3 separate regions of the Homo sapiens genome follow, and regions 1 and 2 are each reported to be linked to region 3. Evidence: microRNA targets listed by miRTarBase, many of them from high-throughput screens and not tested one by one. Region 3 holds a microRNA gene; each other region holds the end of a gene's coding sequence.
The links. Region 3 holds the annotated microRNA hsa-miR-450a-1-3p (AUUGGGAACAUUUUGCAUGUAU, at 2,714-2,735, opposite strand). A microRNA usually pairs through its seed, bases 2 to 8, with sites in the 3' UTR of a target mRNA and lowers its output. Matches are read on the target gene's strand: a 7mer-m8 pairs with bases 2 to 8, a 7mer-A1 pairs with bases 2 to 7 and ends in A, and an 8mer does both.

Region 1 (5,095 bases), not on the chromosome of region 3:
ATATCAAAAGCAAAGTCCCTAGCAACACAGTAAGTACTTGAAAAGAATAGCAAATAGGTTAACTCTGAATGGGCAGTTGACTGTCTTACCTTGATATTCTCAGCACCTCAGATATAGCCTAGCACACAGTAGGTGTTCAGCCAATGGTCATGGAACAGAACCTTCCAATTATGGCAGAAATCAGTTAGTTTTATTCATTATCAGAAGCCCAGTGCTATAGCTGAAACACTGTACTAGGTCTCAATTTCTCATCTTTAACTTCTGGCATTTGGCTTGCTTTCTTCACAGAATTATGAGTCAAAATAAGACACTGTATATGGAAACACTTTCTAAAGATCATGCACACTATTCTCTTCCTAACCCAGGTAGAATCAGGTTGTGGTTGGTGGTAGGTTACCTAGGTATTCCTAGGGCATTTTGGAGGGATCTTCTAATAAAACAAGTGGTTTTGTTATGTTTCCACTTTCTATTTTCTTTTGAGACGGAGTCTCGCTCTGTCGCCCAGGCTGGAGTGTAGTGGCACGATCTCGGCTCACTGCAACCTCTGCCTCCTGGGTTCAAGCGATTCTCCTGCCCCAGCCTCCCAAGGAGCTGGGATTACAGGCACGCACCACCACGCCCGGCTAATTTTTGTATTTTTAGTAGAGACAGGGTTTCACCATGTTGTTCAGGCTGGTCTCAAACTCCTGATCTTGTGATCCGCCTGCCTTGGCCCCCCAAAGTGCTGGGATTACAGGCATGAGCCACCACGCCCAGCCTTCCATTTCTAAACTCCTTCAACTAATAAATAGCATCTTCATCTTTGAATCCCTTATGTGCTTTGCAAACTGCAGTCTACCTTAGTTACTCAGTAAACATTTGTCAAACAAATGTTAGAATACTGCCAATTCAATCCATTGGCAAGTTCTGCTGTGTACTTGCAAAACATATCCTGACTCCAATCACTTCTTATCCCCATCATTACCGTCTTAATAGAAGCCACCACTGCATTGTTGCTTGCCTGAACAACTGCTCTACCTTCCACACCAGTTTCTCAGCTCCTATTCATCTCTTCACCAACAGGATCAAAACAATCAGAGTAATTTTTAAAAATCAACCAAATATAAATTAGACAATGTCACTTCTCTCCTTAAAATCCTGCAATGACTCCTCCACTGTACTTACTGAATGCAGATTATTTAAATTATACCTACAAGGTTCTACATTAGAGACCAGCAAACTACAGCCTGCAAACCAAATCCAACTTGCCACTTGTTTCCTGTAAATAAAGTTTTATTGGAACATAGCCACATACTGTCTATGCCTGCTTTTGCACTGCAATGGAAGAGCTGAATAGTTGTTTTTTTTTTTTTTTTTTTTTTTTTTTTTGAGACAGAGTCTCGCTCCATCACCCAGGCTGGAGTGCAGTGGAGTGACCTTGGTTCACTATAACCTCCTCCTCCCAGGTTCAAGAGATTCTCCTGCCTCAGCCTCCTGAGTAGCTGGGATTACAGGTGCGCACCACCACACCTGGTTAATTTTTGTATTTTTAGTAGACAGGGTTTTGCCATGTTGGCCAGGCTGGTCTCGAACTTCTGACCTCAAGTGATCTGCTCTCTTGGGCCTCCCAAAGTGCTGGAATTACAGGCATGATTCGCACCCAGCCAAAGGGCTGAATAGTTATGACAGAGACCATACATGGCTTGCAAAGTCTAAATATTTACTATCTGGCCCTTTATAGAAAGAGTTTGCCGACTCCTGCTCTACATGATCTGTCCCCTATCTCCCTCTTACAGGATCTTCTATCCTCTTTCCCAGCCCCATCCATTTATTACATCTTAACCAAGCTTTTTCTACCACAGAGTCTGCAACGTTCAAGAATGAATTTCACTCACATCGTCCCAGGACTGCCTCCTTGTCACTGAAGTCTCAGTTTAAATGTCAACTCCTCAGAGACTTTTCTTGACCAACCAATCTAGAGTGGCTCCTTCAACTGTCTTAGTCACATATCTGCTATGAAACAATTAACATGGCAATGACTATTTAAAATTATATACTAGTTTAGTTCTCTCCTCCACTAGAATGTAAACTCCATGAAAGAAGAGACCTTACTTTGCCCACCCCCAATCAGCATTCTAATCACCATAAGCCCAGCACCAAAAACAATGTCCAGCATTGTTTTTGAATGAAAAAGACCAATAAATAGTTGCTGAATGAATGAGGCCAAGGTCAGGAACACCACTCAAGTTCAAGGCAGTTTTTAATGTTCACTTGCCCTGCTGCAGGTTTGCCTTCACACTGTCCTGACTGCAATCATAAAAAGCGAAGGAAGATCAGACAGTATTCCTGGCCCCATTATCATGGGCAAAACAACTCCACCAAGGGCACATTCTCCTCAGATAAAAATGGCATTAGGAAAACCAGGCAAGGCAGGGCCACAAAATTGGACAAAGAAGTTCTCAACTTTATGATTATTATGGTTAAGAATTTTATTATCAAAATTATTACATCTCTTGTGAAAGTTCAAATGTTACAGCAAGGTGTAAACACTCCACTTGAGAAAGAAGTGATACTTCTTCCCTTCCAAGAGTTCCCCCCACCCCCCCGCCCCTACCCCCCCAAGAGGTCTGGTCTTGACAGCACCCTGCCCACACAGAGTGGCTGGGGTCTCTGCACGTGCCAGGCAGGGTGAGGGCCGCCTGCCCGCTGGCCTCTCCCCTTGGTTAAATAGCCAAGGGGAGAATGCAAACCCCAGCCCAAATGGAGAGACATTTACATACGTTTTATATAATATACAAAGAAACCAGCATCCCAGGCAACATGATTTCCACTCCCAATGCTCTCCCAGACTGATGGGTTTGTGGGGGAAACAACAAAAAGAAAAGTACTCTGCTGAGGTCTCAGCATTTAAAAAAAAAAAAAAAAAAAAAATCTCCCCTCATTTGAGCAAACACCTGATTTCGATTTTGAAAAGTGAAATTTTGTAACAGTCACACACAAAGAGAGAAGACTGTGCATATGATAGTTGTAGGACAGGGTAGAAAAGAAGGGGATGCAAGAGGCTGGGGAAAAAAGGAAAACAAATTAGAGGGAAGGAAGGAGGGAAACTCACAGTATTATCTTGTCCAAAAGAAAAGAAGGTCCACTGCAGCACCAGGGATTACACCTGTCATATATTCACTACCCCTACCATGGTTATAACTGAATACAAAATTAGATAAATAAAAACACGCCAGATATTACAGTAAACAAGTGAAAGAAATAAGCTGGCAACCATATGGAATTTAAAAAGATTGTGTACCCCACCTGGGCTGGCTCCAGGGCTCCTCCAGGGGTGTACAACAGGCACAATGCACTGATGGGGAGAAGCCGGTCTGCTCTCATCTCTCATCCAGAACAGTGTTAGGGGTGTGGGTGGCTTGGTAACTCTTTCACTGGGCCCACTCTCACATAAGCATCCCCCAGAGAAATGTGGGGCAGGCCCACACACAATCACAGTCCTGTCGGTGCCACTCCACAAACCTATCTTCCCACTCTTACCCTGCAGTCACAAGTGCATGCTCCCCAATCATGGAGGCGGTCCTGCTCATGGGATCATCAACTCCTGATTAATTGGGAGTAGAAAAAATAAAATTCGAAGCATTCCCAAACCACTCGGTATCCTTCCTAATGAAATTTATTGCCAAAAGCTGGTAAGTAGCAATGCAATTGGCCTATATCATGTCTCATTCCTCCTTTTCTTGTCTACTTACTTCATGGGTTACTGAGCTGTGAAATAGCTTGGGAAGGGGGAGTAGGATGGTAACAGTTGGAGGCTCAGACAATCTACTCAAATAATCTGCTCCCGAATAATCAAGAGCTGACCATGAGCTTTTCTTCAAAGAGCCAGGCACCCTCCAGTTGGTGCAGGTTCCAAGCTTTACTATCCTTGCCTATTTCTTGGTGATCTTAAGACAAAGATAAACAGTATTCTTGGTGGACACACATTGGCCAGATACCTGCTTTTGGAATGGTTGTCTTAGGATGAACATTTACATACCTACCTTTTTTCTTAAGTGCATAAAACCCTAACAGTACTCAGATGGCTTGGGGCTTTGAGATTGGCTCTTTTAACTTTTTTTCCTTTGAAAACTTTTTTTTTTTTTTTTTTTAAATTTAAAAAGATGTCCTCACTGCACAAGTGACTACGGGCTACAGGCAAGGATGGGAGACGGAGGCTTCAACACAACTCATTGCACTTAGAACCGTTACTAACCGAAACACCATTTGCTTGTCAACAATGTACCCTTGACAGCAGGGAGAAACTTCTTTATAGTCTCTGCTTCAGACAAGATTTACAGCTTTCTCCAAGGCCAGAGGCCAATTGTGACCACAAGTCTTGTTTCTTGTCCACCAGACCCAATCCTCTGGCACCTTGTACCCCCCGTTCCTCAGCAATATGCTCGGCCTAGGTTCCAGAGGCAGCTGGAAGGAAGCAGCTATGGGCTCATTCAGTTCTGTTTGCCCAAATCCAGAAGCCCTAGGAAAGTCCCGTCTGAGTCTTGACTCCTGACCCTTGCAGTGGCTGGAGTCGGTACTGGTGCACACCCCCACTCCCACGGTGTGGGTAGTGCTGTGAATTGGAAACCGCAGATACCCTGGAGGCCTGGTAGACAGCTGACTGCCCAGCACTGGGCAGACTGATAGTCCGTAAGTCTGATGGCAATGACGACCTAGAGTTCTGAGGAAAGGAGGTGGAACTCAGAGTTCCTGTGCTGGACTGAGAAACTGAATCTGAGGTTGGCGAGTCTGAGGGTCCCTGCAGGGTAGGGCTAGCAGCACTAGAAGGGCAGCTCCTCCTTGGAAGATTGCTGCCAGTGCTGTTTCCAGAATGTGGCTGGCTGCTAAAATACCCTGGTGTCCCCGTAAATGGGGCCAACGAGTCTGTGGACACAGGGTGGGCGGGGCTGGAATAGGACGTGGAAGAGAGGGATGATTCTGAAGAACCGTGAGAGGGGGGGTTTCCAGGTCTCAGTGCAGTAGTTCGATAACTGTATCCTGGAGACTGTGTAGGATGTCCTCTGAAGGGGGAGGAACTCTGCTGAAGGAGGCTTTGTGATTCTGTCCGAGGACTATC
Region 2 (5,095 bases), not on the chromosome of region 3:
CTTTCTTTCTTTCCCTTCCTTCCTTTTTTCTTCTCTCTCTTTCCTTTCTTTCTTCCTTCCTTCCTCTCTCTCCCTTCCTTCCCTCCCTCCTTCCTTCCCTCCTGCCTTCCTTCCTTCCGTCCTTCCTTCTTTCTTTCTGACAGGGTCTTGTTCTGTCACCCAGGCTGGAGTGCAGTGGTGCAATCATGGCTCATTGCAGCCTCAAACTCCTGGCCTCAAGTGATCTTCTCACCTCAACCTCCTGAGTAGCTGGGACTACAGGCGTGAGCCGTCGCATCTGGCCAAAGCTGGGGTTCAAACCCAGGCAGTCTGGCTTTCAGGAACAGTCTCTTCTCTCCAGCTTACTGCTTCAATAATATCTCTGTTAGATTTCTAAAGTGTGCCGGGACTGCATACCATAGGTGCTCAATAAGTGTTTTTTAATTTTGTTTGGTTTGGTTTTTTTGAGATGGAGTCTCGCTCTGTCGCCAGGCTGGAGTGCAGCAGCACAATCTCGGCTCACTGCAACCTCCGCCTCCCGGGTTCAAGTGATTCTCCTGCCTCAGCCTCCTGAGTAGCTGGGATTACAGGCCCGCCACCTTGCCCAGATAATTTTTGTATTTTTAGTAGAAATGGGGTTTCACCATGTTGGCCAGGATGGTCTCAATCTCTTGACCTTGTGATCCACCTGCCTCGGCCTCCCAAAATGCTGGGATTACAGGCGTGAACCACCATGCCCGGCCACTCAATAAGTGTCTAATGAATAGGGACAGAGGTAGAAGGTGAGCCTTGGAAAGTACAGAATTCAGACCCCAGAGAAGTGGGGTAATAAGGGCCCAGGGGCAGGGGAGAGATGTGGTCAGATTTACCCTTTACATAGGGATAGGCACACAGTAGGTGTGTGCTCATAAATTTTTGCTGAATGAAGGACAGGAAGAAGGGAGGGAGGAAAAAGAGACAAGATAGCTGGTCACAGCTCTTCCAGGTGTGAGAGAGAGAGAGAGAGTGTGTGTGTGTGTGTGTGTGTGTGTGTGTGTTTTGGGGGTGGTCTGTGAATGCCATGGAGGAAAGCTGGCCTAGGGGGCGTCATGGCGAGCATACACAGAGGCTCTGTGAAAGGTGGCAGTTGTGCCAGGGCTGGCGGCTCAGCTAGGAATGGTGTGGGCCCTGGAGTCTGCTGGCCAAGGTGGTGTGGCCTCCTGGGGTTGAGCCTGAGGGTGGAGCAGCACACCAGAGCCAGGGAGCCTGCACAACCCATCTGGGGGTGACACATGGGGAGAGAGGGGCAGGTCCTCACACATGAGCCATTCATAAACCTGAGGGCACCGGGCAGACGGGACCAGGGCTGATGTAGCCCATATGGTGCTTTTGTGTAAAAGACATGCCCCTTCCTGGAGGTACTTGACCTCCATCTGCTGGGAAACTTGTAATAAATATGTAAATGCAGGGTACCTGGAACACCAGTGGCAGCCCCTTACATACGGAGCCTATATGCAGTGCACAACCTATGCAACTGTACCTAGAGGCTCTGGGGAGAGGGGCCATCAGTGGCAAAGCAGGCACAGGGGCAGACGGAAGGATCAGCTCACCCCATATTGGGCCTCGGAGACATCAGAAACAGGTCCTTAGCTGGGCACAGTGGTTTGTGCCTATAGTCCCAGCCACTCTGAGGGCTGAAGCCAGAGGATCCTTTGAGCCTAGGAGTTCAAGGCTGTACAGCACTATGATCACTCCTCTGTACAGACAGTGCTCTCCAGCCTGGACAACACAGTGAGACCCAATCTCTTTGAAAAAGCGGGGAAAGGAAAGAATAAGAAACAGGCCCACGGGAATCCCAGCACTTTGGGAGGCTGAGGTGGAAGGATTGCTTGAGCCTGGGGGTTCGAGACCAGCCTGGACAACATAGGGCAACACTGTCTCTACAAAAAATTTAAAAAATCGGCCGGGCATGGTGGCTCACGCCTGTAATCCCAGCACTTTGGGAGGCTGAGGCAGGGCGGATCACTTGATATCAGGAGTTCAAGACTAGCCTGGCGAACATGGTGAAACTCTGTCTCTACTAAAAATACAAAAAATTAGCCGGGCATGGTGGCAGGCGCCTGTAATCCCAGCTACTCGGGAGGCTGAGGCAGAATTGCTTGAACCCAGGAGGCAGGGGCTGCAGTGAGCCGAGATTGCACCATTGCACTCCAGCCTGGGCGACAGAGCGAGAATCCATCTCAAAAAATAATAAATAAATAAATAAATAAAAATAAGAATAAAAATAAAATCAGTTGGGCGTGGTGGCGTGCACCTGTAACCCCAGCTAATTGGGAGGCTGACGCGGGAGGATTGCTGAAGCCCAGGAATTCGAGGCTATAGTGAGCTATGATCGCGCCACTGCACTCTCCAGCCTGGGCGACAAAGCGAGACCCCGTCTCTAAAAAAAAAAAAAAAAGAAAAAGAAAAGAAAGAAACAGGCCCGCAGAGTGTTGTAAACAGAGGGCGTTCATGATCCCTCGACCACTGGACAGATGTCCGGGGAACCCAAGACGGCGGCACCGCAGAGCCCGACTGGGCACCAGGGGGCGGTGCTGAGCTCAGCCCAGGCGCCCAAGTTTTGAGTCTGCGGCAAAGCAGTCCGAGTCCCATTTGCCCGGGGCTGGAGTCACTCGGGGTTGGAGTCAGGCGCCTGGAAGACCCTCAGCCTGGACGACAGCTCCCCGCAGGCCATTTTCACCCGCTTCCGCGGCCCGCCTCATCCACTTCCAGAAATGGGCACAACTTCCTCTGCTCCTCCAGGAAGCGCCACTCTGCCCGCCCCTTCCCGGCCCCTGGGGCCGACCCAGGCTCCCCATCTGGCCCAGCTCCACTCCTGCCTCTGCCTCCCCGAGGCTTCTGGCCAGAAGCGAGGCTCTGGGACCCCACGATGGCGGCGTTTCCCTCACTCAAGGCCCCGCTGGCCCCTCGGGTCACCGTCCAGCCCCCTGCGCCTCTCTCCATGCGCACCCGCAGTTTTCACGGTGACACTCCCTCCCCTCCGTGCACCCCCCCTCAGGCTCCGCCCTGTCCCTGCGGCCGTCAGGAAGGACGCAGCCTGGGTCCCGTGCCAGGCCGCTGAGTGTGCGGCCCCTCCCAGCCAGGCCTGGAATGCGGCTGGACCGCGGGGGCGGCCGCTGACACCCGGCGCTCCAGCCAGGCCCAGCACACGGGCAGGTGGCCCCAGCTCGTCCGGGTCTGGGTTTCTTCTAGAAGGAAGGCACAGCTGCCTGCCCTGAGCTCCCTCTCTGCAGTCCAGCTACCAAGCCTAGTGGCTTTATTTCAGACACAGCTCCAAGCGTCCCTATCCTTTGCCCAGAGATTTAAGACCAGGAGTGAATTTTATTTTTAAAAATGGGCTGTTGTCCCCCTTTCCTCCCCCATTTTCCTGGAGAGCCGACTCTCAGGGCTCCTTGGAGAGGATCTGTCCAGGGTCCAGGTTTTGTGTTTTTATTTCGGGACCATTCTGAAAGCAATCTCCCCTTCGCTCCTCAATAAATACAGGTAGACTCCAGGCGAGGACTTGCTTTCATTTTTAAAAAGTTGCCTTGACTTCCTGCTAGCAAAGAAAAGAAATAAAATTTAAGAAAAAAAAAAAAAGGCCAGGCACAGTGGCTCACGCCTGTAATCCCAGCACTTTGGGAGGCTGAGGCAGGCAGATCACGAGGTCAGAAGATGAAGACCATCCTGGCTAACACGGTGAAACCCTGTCTCTACAAAAAATATAAAAAATTAGTCGGTCCCAGCTAATTGGGAGGCCGAGGCAGGAGAATCGTTTGAACCTGGGAGGTGGAGGTTGCAGTGAGCCGAAGTCACGCCACTGCACTCCAGCCTGGGCGACAGAGTAAGAATCTGTCTTAAAAAAAAAAGAAAGAAAAAAAAAAAGTGGCCTGGTAGGAGGATCGCTTGAGCCCAGGAGTTTGAGGCTGTAGTGAGCCATGATCAGACCACTGTACTTCAACCTGGGTGACAGAGCGAGACCCTATCTCAAAAAAAAAAAAAAAAAAGTTCATAATTTAAAACCCACCTCAAGTGATAATCTTGGAACCTTGGTTTTCTCACCTGTAAAATAGGGATGATAATACTACCGATCTTGTAGGGCTGTTATAGGATTAAATGAGTTAACACAGTGACGTGCTTAGAAACTGTGCCTCGTACACAGCCTACGCCCAATAAAATGTTTGATGTTTTTATCTCGCCTTCACATTTGCCCAGAGACAAAGCAGCACACGGATTTGAGATTTCCCAGGACTGGCTTTAATTTGAAAAATCTGATTGGGGTCTCTTCCCGTATCAGAGAAGGAACAGCCCAAGCTATGACCCCAGGGCCAGGGAATTCAGTCCCCACCAGACCCTGTCATTCCATCACTAGGGGGTAATTCCAGGCTCCCCCTGCCAGCCCTGAGACAGGAGGACGGATGTGAAGTTGCCCAGGACTAGATTCTGTCTCTCCAAAGTGGCCCAAGCCCTGTTCTCTGTACTAGGGAAGCCAGCTGTGTCTTTTCGAGGACAGTTGGTCCAGCCAGCAGGCTCAGTTCAGATACCAGACAACCATTCCAGCACGAGGGCTCAGCGCCCTGGCCCCGGCGGTCGCTCCAGTGCCTGTGTGCCCACCAGCACATCCATGAGGTAGTCCAATTCGGCCTCGTCCAGCTCCGGAGCTTCCTCCTTGCCCGGCCCATCCTCAGGGCCTGGTTTGAGGCCCTCAGAGGCTGGTGCCCAAAGTTCATTGTCATACATAGAGGTGTCAATATCCTCAAACAGGCCCTCAAGCCCATCGTCCAGTAGACAGCCAGTGGCTGGGCCCAGCAGGTCCAAGGCACCCAGGCTGGGCGCTGCTCCCCCGATGCTACGGCCTGGTGGCCCCTCGTCTGCCAAGGGTTGGGGAGCCTGACTCAGGCCCTCAATGTGGCTGAGGTCCTCCAGGAGGCTGGCCATGGAGGCTGAAAGGGCAGCGTCCGAGCTTGCCAGTAAGTTGTCAGCCACACTGGGGGCTGCAGGTGGGCTAGGCACAGGTGGCAGGGCAGCCGCGGGTGCCATGGACGCCTGGATGCGCCGCAGAGTGTTCACGACCAGCACCAGGTGCCGCAGGTCCGGC
Region 3 (5,143 bases):
CATAATCATGGCGCACTGCAGCCTGGAACTCCTGGGCCCAAGTGATCCTCCTCCCTCAGCCTCTGGCGTAGCTGGGCCTACAGGTGAACACTACCATGCCCAGCCCCACCCACTTTTGCAGGTGCTCATCAAGTCCCATATCCTTCATAGAGTCTTTCCAAGTCACTCCCTGTGTCCTTTAGACCCAGTATATTACAATGGAAAAAGCCCTGAAGCTCAAGGTTCAAGTTGTAACATTGCCCAATTCTCTGCACGACCTCTCTGCAACTTATTTTCTCTCTCTGCAACTTGGTTTTCTCTTCTGTAAAATGAGGGGCTGGACTTGTGTAAAATGAGGGTTTGTACCCTGTTAACAAAGGGAAGCCCTCAGCACCTTCTGCACCTGCCCCTCCTCAACCCCTCTTGGCATACTTCCAACTCTGAGAAGCAATCTCTGTACTGGCCAAATTCTAGGACATTTCACTGGTTCAGAAATTCAGCCGGGCGCAGGGGCTCACGCCTGTAATCCCAATACTTTGGGAGGCTGAGGTGGGAGTATCGCTTGAGCCCAGGAGTTCAAGACTAGCCTGGGCGATATAGTGAGACCCTGTCTCTCTGTCTTTCTCTATATATACATATATAGAAAGAAATTCAGGGGCTGAAGATTTTTTTTTCACTGGTCAACGAAAGGGGCTTAAGATCAATGCTCAATTTGGAATGATTTCTCTCTCTCTCTCTTTCTCAGCCCTAGAGGCGAGACCTCCCATTTAGAAAGGGGTCCCTCCCACACTCTGCCCCTATTCCATACATTTTGTCCAGCAGGGACTAGAGTGAGCCCTAGGGGAAAGGAGGCCACTTAGATGGTTGCTTAGCAAAGCAGATTCTCTGTGTGGTCTGACCTGGCTCAGACGAAGGTCAAAGCCTCAGCTGATCCCTGCTCTGTACCCAGTGGCAGACAAAGTATTCGTGTGTTCAAGGCCTCTCTGGCTCAGTATCACCTTAACCTCCGCTTCTCCCCTACCCGCTCCTCTATCCACAAGTAACTAGCACAGAGGTAGGCACCCAGTAAATATGCTCTGATTGACAGAGTGTGGCAGATAAAAATGCTTATGCTCCTTAAAGAGGAGTACACACATTTAAGCATGGGGACCAGTTTGGTTGTATGATTGTATGTTCTTAAGCAGAACAAGGGCAGGGCATCAGAAAATTGGAGGAATGGTCTCCTGTATCTTTGTAAATGGATATGTGTATATATATTTGCCTCACAACTCAGCTTCTCCTTTAAGGAATATGATGGATCTATTTTGAAAGTAATGTCGGCCGGGCACGGTGGCTCACGCCTGTAATCCCAGCACTTTGGGAGGCCAAGGTGGGCAGATCACGAGATCAGGAGATCGAGACCATCCTGGCTAACACAGTGAAACCCGTCTCTACTAAAAATACAAAAAAATTAGCCAGGCAAGGTGGCGGGCACCTGTAATCCCAGCTACTTGGGAGGCTGAGGCAGGAGAATCGCTTGAACCTGGGAGGCAGAGCTTGCAGTGAGCTGAGATCGCACCATTGCACTCCAGCCAGGGTGACAGAGCCAGCCAGACTCCGTCTCAAAAAAAAAAAAAAAAAAAAGAAAGTAATGTCTAGTCATATGGACTTGCTAGAGTGCCAAATATGTCCTTGGTGGGGGAACAGTTTCCCAAAATGCTACTAAAAAGATAGGAAGGAACTTAGATCCTCCTGTAATGTGTCTCTGTCCAAATCAGTGCCACTGAGGAACGCTAAAACCTTGGTAGGTGCCCTTCAGACCATGGGCCAGGTACGTGACCAAATGGTTCCATCTCTTACCAGAACAAGGATCGCCTAAATTGAGGTGTCACATGTGTTCTGCAACACCAGAGTTACTATGGAGCTCAGCTGAATTTGCGGGAAAATGCAGGGGGGGCTTTACCCGCATCTGCAAGAAGTTGGCTGAGTGGAAATAACCTAAATAAGGTGTTTTCCTGACTTGGGCATATCTCAAACTGGCCAATGCGTCTTGAGGCCCTGGGCGAGCATCCAAGTACCACCTTCCTGAATTGCTACTAGAGGAAAAGGAGCCTGTTTCAGCTTTCTATACTTCTTTAAATGTTACTTTGATTAGACATAGATAGCAGTTTGTTTACTAATATTACTATTATAACTCTGTCGTGGTTATATTTTTTAGTTATACTTTCTCTTTTCTTTGCCAAGAGCAAATGAAAACACATTTGCACTGCAGATCCAACTGAAGTTGTACAAAGGTTTCCCAGATATGTTTGAAAAAGTATTCTAGGCCCACTGCTGGCCAAATAGGAAGTCTTCCCCCACCCTTATGTCAGGGGTTCATGCTTTAAAAAAAATACAAACTCTTTTTAAAAATAAAATGTTTTATTATTGCTATAAAAGCAATGCATTTTATTGTTTATGCAAATATTACTTGGAAAATACATAAAAGTATAAAGAGAAAAACAAACATTACCTATAATTTTATACTATAATACTGTTACAAGTTTTGGTATATTTCTTCCTAGACTTTTCTCCATATGTTGATACAAAACTATGGATGCAAAATGATCCCAATACACTTATATTACATATTCAGGAACATATTGCAAAAATAATTCTGCATCTTACATTTATCACAGAAGTAAACCACAGATAGCCGCTGTTAGATTTTTTGCTTATTCCCTCCATCTTTTCATCTGTATATTGATACAAAACTATACATGCAAAATGTTCCCAATATATTTATAGTGCATATTAGGAACACATCGCAAAAACAGTTTAGTATCGTTTTTGATTGCCTATAGTGACACAAGTCAGCGATAACCACCTCTAGACTTTTGGTATACTTCCTGATAGCCTCTTTTCCCCATATTATTGATACAAAACTATGAATGCAAAATGTCCCCAATACATTTATATTACATATTAGGAACACATCGCAAAAATAGTTTAGCATCTTTCTTTGGTCACCTTTATACCACAACTCAGAGATAATCACAATAAAGTTTTTATATGTTTCCTCCTAGCCTTTTATCTGTATGTTGATACAAAACTATTCATACAGAATGCTCCCTATATACCTATATTGCAGAGATGGGAAAATATTTTGCACCTTTTTTCAATCGCTAAATGTTTTATCAGGAGCACATTCTCATGACATGAAAATTACTTTCAGAAACATTATTTTACATGAAAGCATCCTATTCTATTGTACTAGCTAGCTACGCTGTATTTTATTTGTCTAATCCTTTGTTGTTGGTCATTCAGGATGTTCCTAACTTCCATCCTTAAAATATTGAAATGAGCATCTTTATGCATTTTTTTTAACTGGGGCTTTCTGTTCATGTAGTTTTTATGGTTTTTCTTGACCACTTGTGTGGACTCAACATACTAAAAATGACCCTGTGTCTGTAATGCTTATAGCAAAGTGTTTTCCAGTTGTTTGCTTGAGCATAAATTCTTTATTTTAGCATTCTAGCACAAGTATAAAATCATATACCTTATGTAAGTTTCAATTCATTCAACAAACATTTAAAGCAATAAAGACACAAATAAAGGCATTCCCATTACACTCCTATGAAAACACAACTCATCCTCCCACCCCATCCCATAGCAACCCCTTTCTTCTTTGCTTAGGGCCCACTTTCCTCCTGATCTTTTCATTGATTCGTCTTGTAATACTTACCACATGTTTTGCTATGAAGATGAGTGGCTCCCAGACCTTTCAGTTATCAATCTGTCACAAGTGCACACTGGTATCTCGTGACATGATGATCCCCGAGATGTCTGAGATCTGTGCATCCTTGACCGATCCCAAATTTCTGTATCACCCATGACCCCTAAAGACTTTTTAGAGAATTATATTTTGACAACATAACAAGAAAACGTGGCATCTCACACACACACACACACACACACACACACACACACACACACACACACAAAACCATGAAAAAGTAGAGAAAGAAGAAACTTCAGCTCTAATCCCACCACCCTTAAGTAACAAGTATGTCTGTTTTGCAGGTTTCCTCCAGGTTCTGCTCCTATTTTTCAATCATGGTGTCCATGTGATTTTGTGGCCCTGATTTTTTTTAAGTTGATATCATAAGCATTTTCCAGGTTTCTGTATATTCTCTATCATTATTATTTGCAATGGCTGAAAAAGGTTCCATTGAGTGAGTGACTAGATTAAGTCAACCCCTATAGCTTGACACTTCATTTGTTTCCTTAAGATAATTTGATTGAATCTACAGAAAATAACAAACATGGGACAGAGGTTTAAAATGAATTTAAATCATGCTTTTTTGGTTTGTGCAGATTGACTTGTACACGGCTGGGTAACTTATAGTCACTATTTAGTAATCCTGGGGCCAATCTTGGGCCTCACCCAGGAAGTGTCCAATGTATAGGCCAAAGCTCATCATAAGACTAGCCAGTTTCACCGGGAATTTTTGTAACCAAACACATTCACCTCCATTTCCTGCTCTGGTCACTACTGCATAGTCGGTTCTGATGAACAGGTAATGACATAAGGAACACAGTATGAGGCCTGGAGGAAGAGCCCCCAGAGAGTAGCCTCAGACAAATCCTTAACCTCCAGAGGCCCCAGTTTTCTTGTCTGTAATTATTTTTTGGACTGCCTTAACTCTGTTTGTCTTTCAAGGTTGTCACAAATTAAAAAAAGAAAAAAAAGAAAAAACAAAGTATTTGGAAAAGTATGTAAACACACGATACAAAGGCAAGATGTTGGGATACTGATGATTCTGTGGCCACGCCTTTAGAAGGTCTGGTCTTAGGGTAATAGTCTTGTCTGGATGGCAGGTGGGGGTGGACATGGGGGAACAGGTGAGGGAGCTGCCTTGGGAGACTCAGGCTTCAAAGCAACCCAGACTCTCACTGGCAGGTTGCTGCAGTGTTCTGAGCTCCCTGACTCCAGCAGTGGAGCCAAGGCCATGTTTCCAAACACCCACCAACTGCTCAGATTATAGAGCTCAGTAGTGGAAGGGGGAGTGCTCAAAGGCCCAAGCAACCACAGGAAGTGGAAGTCTTTCGGGGCTCCTCCCTCTTGGCTCAATTTACTATCCCCACAGGGGTTTTAAGCCTGGCTGAACTTGCCAAAGAGATCAGCTGTGGAGCTGGGGAGGAG

Region 1: the mRNA of SETD5 is a reported target of hsa-miR-450a-1-3p. Seed matches in the 3' UTR shown: 7mer-m8 at 3,760-3,766.
Region 2: the mRNA of SERTAD1 is a reported target of hsa-miR-450a-1-3p. Seed matches in the 3' UTR shown: 7mer-A1 at 3,635-3,641.

What each region holds. Positions count from the first base shown.
Region 1 is chr3:9,475,495-9,480,589 of GRCh38, reverse strand. SETD5 (SET domain containing 5) reads right to left here. Exons shown (of 23, transcript NM_001080517.3): 23 at 2,436-5,095. The coding sequence ends at 4,499. Among named protein-coding and RNA genes, the nearest start is that of LHFPL4, 76 kb to the left of the region's middle.
Region 2 is chr19:40,418,270-40,423,364 of GRCh38, forward strand. It overlaps SERTAD1 (SERTA domain containing 1), which reads right to left. Exons shown (of 2, transcript NM_013376.4): 2 at 3,320-5,095. The coding sequence ends at 4,567. Among named protein-coding and RNA genes, the nearest start is that of SERTAD1, 5.2 kb to the right of the region's middle. RefSeq lists enhancers at 2,424-2,924, 2,590-2,709 and a silencer at 3,000-3,089.
Region 3 is chrX:134,537,645-134,542,787 of GRCh38, forward strand. It overlaps MIR450A1 (microRNA 450a-1), which reads right to left and starts at 2,787; the gene lies at 2,697-2,787. MIR450B (microRNA 450b) reads right to left here and starts at 2,618; the gene lies at 2,541-2,618. MIR450A2 (microRNA 450a-2) reads right to left here and starts at 2,963; the gene lies at 2,864-2,963. It overlaps MIR542 (microRNA 542), which reads right to left and starts at 3,793; the gene lies at 3,697-3,793.